Linked DNA regions of Homo sapiens. The protein of the gene in region 1 interacts with the protein of each later gene in a pairwise test. Each region holds a gene or a part of one and is shown on either strand. Other genes may lie near its edges.

Evidence for each region. Proteins that work in one complex are often made in the same cells at the same time.
Region 2: the proteins of PLG (region 1) and CYFIP2 interact in a two-hybrid assay, tested with the Homo sapiens proteins (one large-scale study listed by BioGRID and IntAct).
Region 3: the proteins of PLG (region 1) and RAP2A interact in a two-hybrid assay, tested with the Homo sapiens proteins (one study listed by BioGRID and IntAct).

What each region holds. Positions count from the first base shown.
Region 1 is NC_000006.12:160,708,744-160,712,243, reverse strand, and holds part of PLG (plasminogen isoform 1 precursor), read right to left. Parts: intron 1,168-3,500; coding exon 1,053-1,167; coding exon of another isoform or gene 1,049-1,052; exon of another isoform or gene 372-1,048; intron 1-371. UniProt on the Homo sapiens protein: Plasmin dissolves the fibrin of blood clots and acts as a proteolytic factor in a variety of other processes including embryonic development, tissue remodeling, tumor invasion, and inflammation. In ovulation, weakens the walls of the Graafian follicle.
Region 2 is NC_000005.10:157,318,123-157,321,622, forward strand, and holds part of CYFIP2 (cytoplasmic FMR1-interacting protein 2), read left to right. Parts: intron 1-1,639; coding exon 1,640-1,806; intron 1,807-2,532; coding exon 2,533-2,680; intron 2,681-3,500. UniProt on the Homo sapiens protein: Involved in T-cell adhesion and p53/TP53-dependent induction of apoptosis. Does not bind RNA. As component of the WAVE1 complex, required for BDNF-NTRK2 endocytic trafficking and signaling from early endosomes.
Region 3 is NC_000013.11:97,440,669-97,444,168, forward strand, and holds part of RAP2A (ras-related protein Rap-2a), read left to right. Parts: intron 1-3,500. UniProt on the Homo sapiens protein: Small GTP-binding protein which cycles between a GDP-bound inactive and a GTP-bound active form. In its active form interacts with and regulates several effectors including MAP4K4, MINK1 and TNIK.

The DNA of each region.
Region 1 (3,500 bases):
TGTGAACCTATTTGGGATAACCCCCACCCCCCGAGACCTCAGTTCCCTCATAAAGATGAGCCTAGACTACCTCATAAAAATGGCCCAGAGTGTCTCCATGGCCCCCGATAGTCTCTGACTTTGCCATTTGGTTGAATCAGTTTTCATTAACTCACGGGGAATATTTGATCTGCTCATCTCATAGGGATATAGCAAAGGCAATTTGTTGAGTGTTGGGGGAATGGATAAAGGTGAGTAACAAGCACTAAGTTCCTATTTGATAAGCGTCATTACTGAGAACTTAATGCCACCTAACACCAAACTGGGAAAAGTACAAAAAAATGCACTAAAATAAATAATAGGCAAGTTGCAACATTTGAATTTCACGTATCTTCATTTTCATTTTTATATCTTATTTACTCTTTTGCTCCACAATTTGAGTCGAACATGTGATGAGAGTTCTAACCTGATATGCTTACTTCAGTCCCAAACATAGTCATCTTTGATCTTTTCTCAGATTTGGCCTAAAACTCATAGTTTCATTGATTTTTTTTAAACTAGGCATTCTTCTATGTTCTAGGTCTTCAAGAAACCTCCATATCCAAGAAAAAATAGAAAGCAACCATGTTCTACTATGGTGCCAAAAATAGTTGAACATCGACATCAAAAAGATTCTTTCTATCTGCTTATTCACATATTGTGGTTTGAATTAAAAGTGATGAAATTATCCTAAATACAGTTGGCCCTCTGTATCCATGGGTTCCAGATCCACAAATTCAACCAACTGTGGATGGAAAAGACTTGAAAAAGATGACAGAAAATAACAATATGACAATAAAACATAATACAAATAAAAACAATACAGTATAACAACGATTAAATAGCATTTACATTATATTAGGGATTATACAAGAGAAGGTATGTAGGTTATATGCAAATACTGCACCATTTTATATAAGGGACTTGAGAAGCATGGATTTTGGTAGCCACAGGGGTCCTGGAACCAATCCCTCACAGACACAGAGGGACAACTTTACAGTAGATGAACACAAAGATGAAAGGGAATGTCTTACCTAGGTCTGTGGGGAGAAGTGGAACTCCATTTTTGACAGGTGATGCCATTTTTTGTTTTGGACATCGTCCCTCTGTAGTTCTTTCCATTCCCAGTCTTGCACTCTGAGAGATACACTGAAGGGAAGTCCACACAGTGGTCAAAGTCTTTCACAAGACACCACATGAAGGTCTGCACAGCATAGTCACGTTGAGAAAAAGATCTCATGCACCAGACCCCCTGTTTCTGCTTTCTAAAAGATCATCTTTTGCATCTGCAAAAAGGCTGCAGTAAACTGAGCCATTCTTTGATTCATGTATTCAAATGCTACTTATGAGCTCTCTGTGTATCGAGCCCCACCAGGATGCTGGGGACACACGGGGCACAGTGCAGCCAGAGGCTTGGCCGTCATGGAGCTTACATTCTAGTGGAATCAGGCAGGGGGGTTACAGGAAATATTCAAGGAAACAATATAAAATGAGATCACTTAATGATGATACATATTACATACATGATGAGACAGAGTGAGAGAATGGGGAAAGGGCTTTTTAGATGGGGGAATGGCAGGCTTTTCAGAGGCTGAAAGAGATCCAACCCACTTCTATTTCTTCAGGCTCCCAGTGATATGAAAAAGTGCCAAACAGGGCTATAAAATTGTGGTCTACTGTAAATGGTTTGCAGTAAAAGTTCTCAACCAGCTTCCACTCAACCAACTCACCAGTTAGACAACGGGCCCTCTCCTGTGTTTAAAACAGTCCGGTGCCCACCTGGGTCCACATGCAGCTGGCAGGTGTTTGCTAGTGTGCCCACCCATGTCTGTTCCCCCCACGTGAGTTATGTGCTTACAACGAGTCATTTCTTTGCATTTTCCAACTTTCTTACATTTATATTTAATTAAAGATGATCTAAACTGAGAAATGAATGTGAAAAGAAACAAAGCTCTTTTTTGTTTGGTTTTTAACTAAATTAAATGTTTTTAACAAGTTGAAACATGAATCATTTAAAAAATTGCTATCAAATCCACAGAGGGCAATCCACTCATATAGTTGACTATAAAGCTTGAGGAGGAATTCATAAAAATCTAAAGGTTTTACACATTCAGATTGATTAATAAATGTCGAGATATGGTCCACTTCAAAAATAAGGAAAGTAATTATTGTAGATGTTGCACTGGAGCATAGTTTATGCAGGAAATACACCAGAGACCTTCTACTGGTGACCCCATATTCGAAGAAGAAAAGCCTCTGCTCTACGTCAAAAGGTGTCAAGTACACTTGTGTTTTCAATGAAAATATAAAATGTTTAAGGTATATTTACACCATCATTTAAGGTTACCCACTTTAGCCATTTTTTAATTAATTGATCAATCACATGGGGAAAGTGCTCCTAACATACCTACAGCAAACTAATGCTTTTAACCCAATACTGCGTATTATGATTGCAAGTACATCTTCATTGGGACATAGTATTACAGTAGACATAAGACACTCATCAAAAGTGTAAACTCAAGGTACTTTGTGAAAGGGAGGTCTAGGGGTCAAGGAAGATTTGCAAAGGACATGATGATTGAGCTGACACCTAGGAGATAAGAAGGAGCTGGCACAGCAGGACAAAGGTGAAGAGGGTCCCAGGCAGGAGGGTGTGTGCTTGGGGTGGTGAAGGAACAGAAGTAAGGCCAGTGTAGAAAAGTTTAGCAAGCCAAGCAAACAGCAGCTGGGGGTTACTTAAATAATGCTGGGCCCTAGCACATTTGGGAAGTCTTTGGGTCTTATTTTAAGGGCACTAGGAAGGGCTTTAAACAGGGAAGTTACATTTCTTAGAGATCATGTGTACAGCTACAAGTAGCCCCAACCAGTGGTGATAGGGTCTTGGACTTGGTGAAGGCAGTGTGGCTGGTGGCAAGTGGCAGAAGTAAATGTGATCTAACACTGACTGTTCCTGGCAAAACCCTGGCAGGTAAGTTAGTAGCAGGTCAATATCCCACAGCAAAGAAACAAGGACCAAAAAATGACTGACTTTTGACTTTTCACTTCTTTTTTTTTTGTATGTACCCATCAGAGTTTATATAACCTTTTGCTCCCTTCTGTCACTTTGAAAACAAGCAAACTAAGCCTTCAAACTTCAGACTTCAAACTCAACCTACAGTCATTCCCATGTTCCTTCTGGTTAACAATTTACAAATGACATATTTAAATGTTAGCATTTTGTAGAGAGAATCAGGAGAATCAGGGTTTTTTTTTTTTAAAATCTGGTACAATTAGGTGATCCTATTTAGTTTACCGTTTGCTTGCTACTTGTAAGAACTAATAACTTCACCAGATAAAGTTTAGATTTAATCTGCACTTTAATCTCAAGAATTCGAGATAAATAGTGGTAAGGAAGGAAGTACAATGCGTACAGCTAATGAAACCCAGGAAGATGAGTCAATGCATAGAAATAATTCCAACCCAAATAAATACTATTTAAAATG
Region 2 (3,500 bases), on another chromosome or scaffold:
TCTTCAGTCAAATATATGTCGCAAATATTTTTTCTCATCAGTGACTTTGCCTTTTCATTTTTTAAGGGTGCCTTTTGAAGAGCAGCTGTTTTTAATTTTGATGAAGTCCAATTTGTCAGTTATTTGGTGGTTAGTGATTTGGGGGTTTCAGCTAAGAAATCTTTGCCTTGTCTAGAGTTGTAAAGATTTTTCCTTTAGATCCAACAGGCCTGCCCACTCCTCTGTATTTGGAGCCATTCTGAGACATCTTCATTATTTACTCCTTCCTTTTTCCTAATGTCTCCTAGTTATATCTGTAGCCAGGGGCCCAGATTCTGTTATGATCTAACAGTCCTCTAATGCTTCTCTCCCATTATTTCTCTGCACTAAAGCTCATCACCAACAAAATTGTTGTACTGTTGGTGCCAATGAAAACCATCACCTCCTGAGTTGTTTTCATACCAGTTCTATCTAAAAATGTTCTTTTTCTTCCTTTAAGTTTTAGAGAAAAAAACAGCCTTAGGGTCTGAGCTCATTCATTCATTTATTTGTTCCTTTTCAACAGAAAATGTGTCTGCCCACCATGGACCCAGACACTGGCAGTTGGGCGTGCACAGCATAGCTGGGCCCTGTCCTGTGTATTTCCAGTCTGGTGTAGAAGGTGGAACATGCCATTATGGGTGTGATCTGTGTGGCAGTTGTGAGGTGGACGATCTGCCACATGCCTTTCCCTCTGAATTCTGAATCAATTGAGAAATTAATATTAGAGGCCAATGGAGTCAAAGGCTCAGACTTACTGCTGGTAAAGCTAGACTAGAGAATGTGGTTTTCACCCAAGGCCACACCAGTGTTCCTATGCCTCCTACATCTCATTAAACTTGCCACTAGGTAATAGGCAAAGCAGCTGCATAGATACACGCCTCCCTTCCTCGGGATGGGCAGGGGATGGTTACTGCAAGAAGCAGCCAGAAACCTAGAAGGGAGGCCACATACTTGCAGGCAGGCAGGTCCCAAAAGAGCGAGCCAAGGTCAGGCCAGGCTCCTCTCATCACACGTGCCTGAATCCCCATCTCTCCAAACAGATAAGTGAGTTAGGGTAAGGAGAAGGGAAATAGGGGAGTAGAGGCATTCTCCCCCATGACTTCTGCAGGAGAAGTTTTGATTTTATAAACTCAAGCAGCAACTGGCCAAACGGTTTCAAAAACAAAGGTTGTAAAAATTCTTTAGAAAATTTTATGTTAAAAAAGTTCTATTTGATGTTGTCTGTGAGTGCCTGGTCTATGGAGAGGCCTTCAAAAGCCAAGGCACTTCTCAAAATGCTCAAATTGTGGCCCATGGGCCAGCTGCTATTTGTCAGCAGTGAACAACAAAATTGGGAGCTCATGCGAGGATGAAAATCAGTTGCATTGCGAAGAATGCTGTTAGTTGAGCTGACATTTGTGTTTTGTAGCAAGACTTTCTCAATGAATGAAGCCAAGTGCTGATATACGTACATTCTGGCACACATCTCTTACCTAGCCATGCGCTGGCACTTTGAGTAGCACTGGCCTCATGCCTCTGGACATCTCACTCCCCGCCTCCCCTGGCAGGGCGGTGATGGGTAGTAGACAGCTGGTGTGCTGGACATGGTGAACATGACCCTTGGCCTCTTCCTGCCCAGGTGATCGCCATGATCAAAGGCCTGCAGGTGCTCATGGGCAGGATGGAGAGCGTCTTCAACCAGGCCATCAGGAACACCATCTACGCGGCATTGCAGGACTTCGCCCAGGTGACGCTGCGTGAGCCCCTGCGGCAGGCGGTACGGAAGAAGAAGAATGTCCTCATCAGGTGGGTTTTCAGATGCCTTCAGGAGCATATCAGACATAAGCATGCCAGGTACCCATCAGAGAGGATGTCCTGGCTCAGCCACTGAACACACATGGGTCCTTCCAGCAAGCTCCAGAGGGCTCTTTAGGAGATTGGGCATTTGGGATGAATTAAGCCTTCATCTCTAGAAGTCCATATCCACTGCTATCTAGCTGTGTGAACTTGGTCAGGTTGCTGACCTTCTCCAAACCTCAGTTTTCCTCATTTGTAAAATGGGGATTATAATGCTACCTGCTGCCTGTTGGGATGATGAAATGAGATGGTCCATATATAGACCTAAGCACATGCAGCATGGAGTAAGTATGCAGCACATCTAAGCTATTATGAAAACTAAGCACACACAGATTTCATAAGACCGGTGAGACTCCCCTATAACCAGAAAGGAAATACAGACCTCTTGCCTCACACAAGTTCTGTCTCACTCGATGGGCTCAGAGCTGAGTTCTCAGACATCCCTTGGACATCAGAACCATGTAGGACACTTGTTTAAACACAGATTCCTGGACTGTACCTTAAATCTGTTAAACCAGAGTTTTGGAATTGGGGCAGAAATGAGCATGCTTTACAAGCACCCCAAGAATTCAAATGTGGGTGTTCCTGGGACACCACGGGCCCTAGAAACACAAGCTTGTAGTGACGTTTTCCCATGGTGAAACCTGGTCTAAGTCTTAGTTCTTCCTTCCCCAGCGTCCTACAGGCAATTCGAAAGACCATCTGTGACTGGGAGGGAGGGCGAGAGCCCCCTAATGACCCATGCTTGAGAGGGGAGAAGGACCCCAAAGGTGGATTTGATATCAAGGTGCCCCGGCGTGCTGTGGGGCCATCCAGCACACAGGTAAGCGGCTCCAGGCACAGGCCAGCTGCGTTGACTCAGAGGCCAGCCGGGCTATGGTAGATCATCATGGCTGGCCATGGGCAGTGGGACTGGGAGCCGTCGGTCAGGAGGGGCAGGGTTGAGTGGCTGCTCCGGTCTTATTCTGCCATCTTGTTTTGATATAGGAAGGAGGACCACTGGCTTAAGATTCAGGAGACCTGGATTCTAGTCCTAGATACCTGTGTGACCTCGGGCACTTTACAGATCTCTCTGTGCCTCAGTTGTTTAAACTGGCTAATGGGGATAATACCACCACATCCACCTTGCCTGGCTATCTTCTAGTCCTATGAAGTATAGATTCCAAAGTGGAGGAGGAGGTTAAAGTGGAATCTATCTGCATGCATCTATGCTGCCCCTCTTTAATAAGTCCTGGCCCTTTCCCCTAAAAGTTCTGCCTCTGACTTGCTGTGTGATCTTGGGCAAGCACCTTGAGCTTTCTGAGCTCTGATTATCTTCTCTGTAAAATGAAAACTTTGGATGAGATTGTGTTACTAACAAAATATTCCTTAGTTCCACATCCTTCCAAAAGTGCAAGTATTGAAAGCCCTTGTCCCCTTAGAGGAAGTCTAGTATTTGGAAACACTCAGAGTTGCCAGCCAGAGCTTCTGCACAAGAGGTCGCCCGTGGCTTATCCAGAGCAGTCATAACGTTACAGAAAAAAAAGTCAATAATCTGGGCATCTTCGTTAAATCCCTGCTACCTACTTAAGGATAGGTAGTTTCTGGTAATATTTTTGATGTACTGGAAAAAGCAGATGGTTCTCATTGCAAGTTTAAGGGTC
Region 3 (3,500 bases), on another chromosome or scaffold:
TGTACAAAAAGCCAGACATATTTAATGTGTACAACTCAGTGAGTTTAGAGATAAGCATACACTTGTGAAATCACCACAATCAATGCTGTAAAACTATCCATCACCTCCAAAAGTTTCCCCCTGCTTTATTTATCTATCCATTCATTCATTCATTCATTCATTTTTTTTGTAGTAAGAACACAACATAAGTTCTGTCTTCTTAGCAAATGTTTATACAATACAGTATTGTTAACTAGAAGTACTATTACCATACAGATGTCTGGGACTTACTTATCTTGCATAACTGAACTTCATACAGTGAATCACTTTATGTGGCCCAGAAGTTTTTCCTGAAAAGGAAACTTTTGTTTTGGCTGCATTGTAAAATTACAGGTTACAGTATATAGTTTTCTTTTTGCCACTCCAGGATTGTAATTTTTAAAGCTCAATTTGGAGTTGGAGGAGATGATGTCTCTTCCTCTCTAACATTCTGTGAGAGCACTTTTGTCTGGCCGGGGTGATGAGGGAAGGGGTCAAGTTTAATATGAACCTTAAAGAATCAGCAGCCTGTGACCCACAATTTTGTCTAGTTAAGATTTGATAATTGTATCAATAAAATCTACAATAAGGAATAATTATACTAATACTTATTTTTTAATGGAGGGCAAAAATAATTTAAATTATTAAACATTAAGGAAGAGGTAGAGGAACTAAGAAAAATCACTGGATTTCACAGCCAACAGGAAGAGCCAACAAAGTTGGAATCTATTTGCTAAAGTTTCAGTAGCAATATACTTGAGTGATTTAATTTCTGTGTGTGAAGTTCTGGGAAATTACATATGGCACAATAAGGTGCATATATTATGCATGTATATGTACATATTTTTAAGCAAGGATCTTTACATAAAACCAAGTACACTGTACTTAAGGGAATTTTTTTTCAGGGGTATTTTTTTCTTTTCAGTTCTCTTTTAGTCATTGTCTTTAGAACCTTACTGCCTAGGGGAGCATGTATGCCTTACTCTGGGGTTTTCTTTGCTTCTGTTTTGATTTTTCCCTGTTTTCTGTTTCTCTCCATCTATTCTTACCTACTGTTTTTTTACACACTTATATTTTTCAGGCCTATGTTGTAAAAAGAGTTTTAAGTACTCTAAGTTTTTTTGGAGTAATAAGAGTTTGAATACGAGCAGACTTTCAAACAAGGTAAAACTGATGGTGACTGAATAGTTACTAAAGGAAATGTATAGATATTGTGTTTATGTAGGAAATTTATCTTGAAATTTTAATGGTGTGCAGAAATATGCCATATATTATATATTGCCATTTCATTTGTTACTTTGACACTTGTGGTTCATATCATTAAAAATTATTCTCAGCCTGACAGAGAGAAGTTTAATTTCTTAAACATCCTTTCTGCTTTACCAGATCAAACTCAGCCTTTTAGTAGAGTAATATCAATAATAGTAATGCTGTAATTGTGGACATCTGCATTTCAGTCAAGTATGTTAAATAAAGCATAAATATATTAGTAAAATTTAAAGTAATCAAAATAACTAAAAACAATATTTGAAGATTCTAATACATAATCTAGCTAAGATTTTGTCATGGTATGTATTAAATTCTTTCTCTGGCATAATTGTATAGATGGGGATTTGTTTTTGTTTTTTATTTCTCTAATACATTTAAGATTTTAAAACATACCAAAATTTATATTTAGGGAGAAATAAGGTGACTTATAATTTTTATTTTTAAATTGTTATCTGTCAAAAAGCCAAATATTGGAAAAAATTAATAACTATCTCTATTTTTATAGATCCACTCAGCAGGGGATTTCACATTTTCTTAACCAGGGCCCTCAGTAAGAAGTACATTTTATATTGTGACTTAGTGCACACATAGGAATAAATACATCTAGCCGAAATCAACATTTCATAAGACAGTAAACTTGCTATGTTGCTTGTATTACTTTTTCTATTTATTTTTTTCTATTTTATTTCGTTGTTTTTAAGTGCTTTTCATGACCCACCAAATTGATTTTATCACACATAGCTTGGAAACTGCTATCCTAGGACATTTTTACTCTAAGAAAACTAAATGTAACTATCTGTTTAATATTTCATCTTCTCTCTCCTGCTTTTCTGGTTCCCAGCAATGCTGTGTAAGATTACGAAAATGAAGTACTTCCCAATGTGAGTTAGTAAATACTACCTGTAATTCAGAGAAAGATAGCATTTAGTCACTGAACAAAAAGATATAGCATATCTTTTGAGAAAGCATTTATCTCTGTTGTGCATATTAGAAATATGAGAATGTATTTCTCATGTAATGTTGTTCATTCTAGTAATTCAAGATAACTTTTGCCTTGTGAAAACTTAGAACAGAGAAAGGGAGGTTGTGGTAGTATTCAGACTTGAATACATGAGTGCGGGATTATCTATTTCAAGAACAGTTGCTGAGGAGGTTCAGAAAACTCAAAATAGAGGTCTGCTGCATCTATCCAGGATAACACTGATTCACCTCTCCCTGTAAGACAGTAAAACTATAAATATCTTAAAATCACTTAGTAAAGTTACCCAAGAGAAACATTGAAAAACCTTTATTTAAAACATTTAGGAGTGTTCTCATGCTTTCCTGACCCTTAGAAATTAATAATTCAAATGTGGAAATACTATATTAATAATTCAATGCATATTAGTATTTTCTCTACTAAGTATCTTTACAGCTCTCTCTCTGTAAATGAAATCTTAGAGTATTTTAAGAGACAGGGTCTTGTTCTGTTGCCCAGGCTGGAGTGCAGCGGCGCCATCAGAGCTTACTGCAGCCTCTAACTCCTGGGCTCAAGCAACCCTTCTGCCTCAGCCATCTGAATAGCTAGGACTACAGAGCAGGCACCACCGCATCCAAGTAATTCTTTAAAAATTTTTTCTAGAGATGGGATCTTGTTATTTTGCCCAGGCTGGTCTCAAACTCCTGGCCTCAAGTGTTCCGACTACCTCAACTGCCCAAAGCACTGGGATTACAGGCCTGAGCCACTGCCCCTGGTCCTAAATTAATTCATCTTTAGGTTTCCAATGAACATTATGAATACTGTATGTATTATAATTCTCGAATGGAGTATTTTATTGTATATACTTATCTTCTCATCCATGAAGACAGCGAATGTTAATCTCATTAAAGCTGAGATCCAGCACTTATTAGTTATGTAATTAGGAGCAAGTTGACATTCCTTGCATTTTAATTTCCTCATTTGTAATATGAGTATGATGTAGTAACTCGTGAGATAACGAACGTAAAGTGTTTCTTTACATAGTGAACCTAAAATATTAATAATAAAGTTTCACCAAGAATCACAGAAATAGGAATGAAACCCAGCCTTTTATCTGTATACTGCCACGTGACTTCTTAGGAATTAGGCTCAATTGTCTTACTATATTGAGATGAATTATATACCTAGTATAGTATAACATTTCTGTTTTTCCCATTGCTTTCTCCTCTGTGTTTTAAGTGCTCTAACACTACGT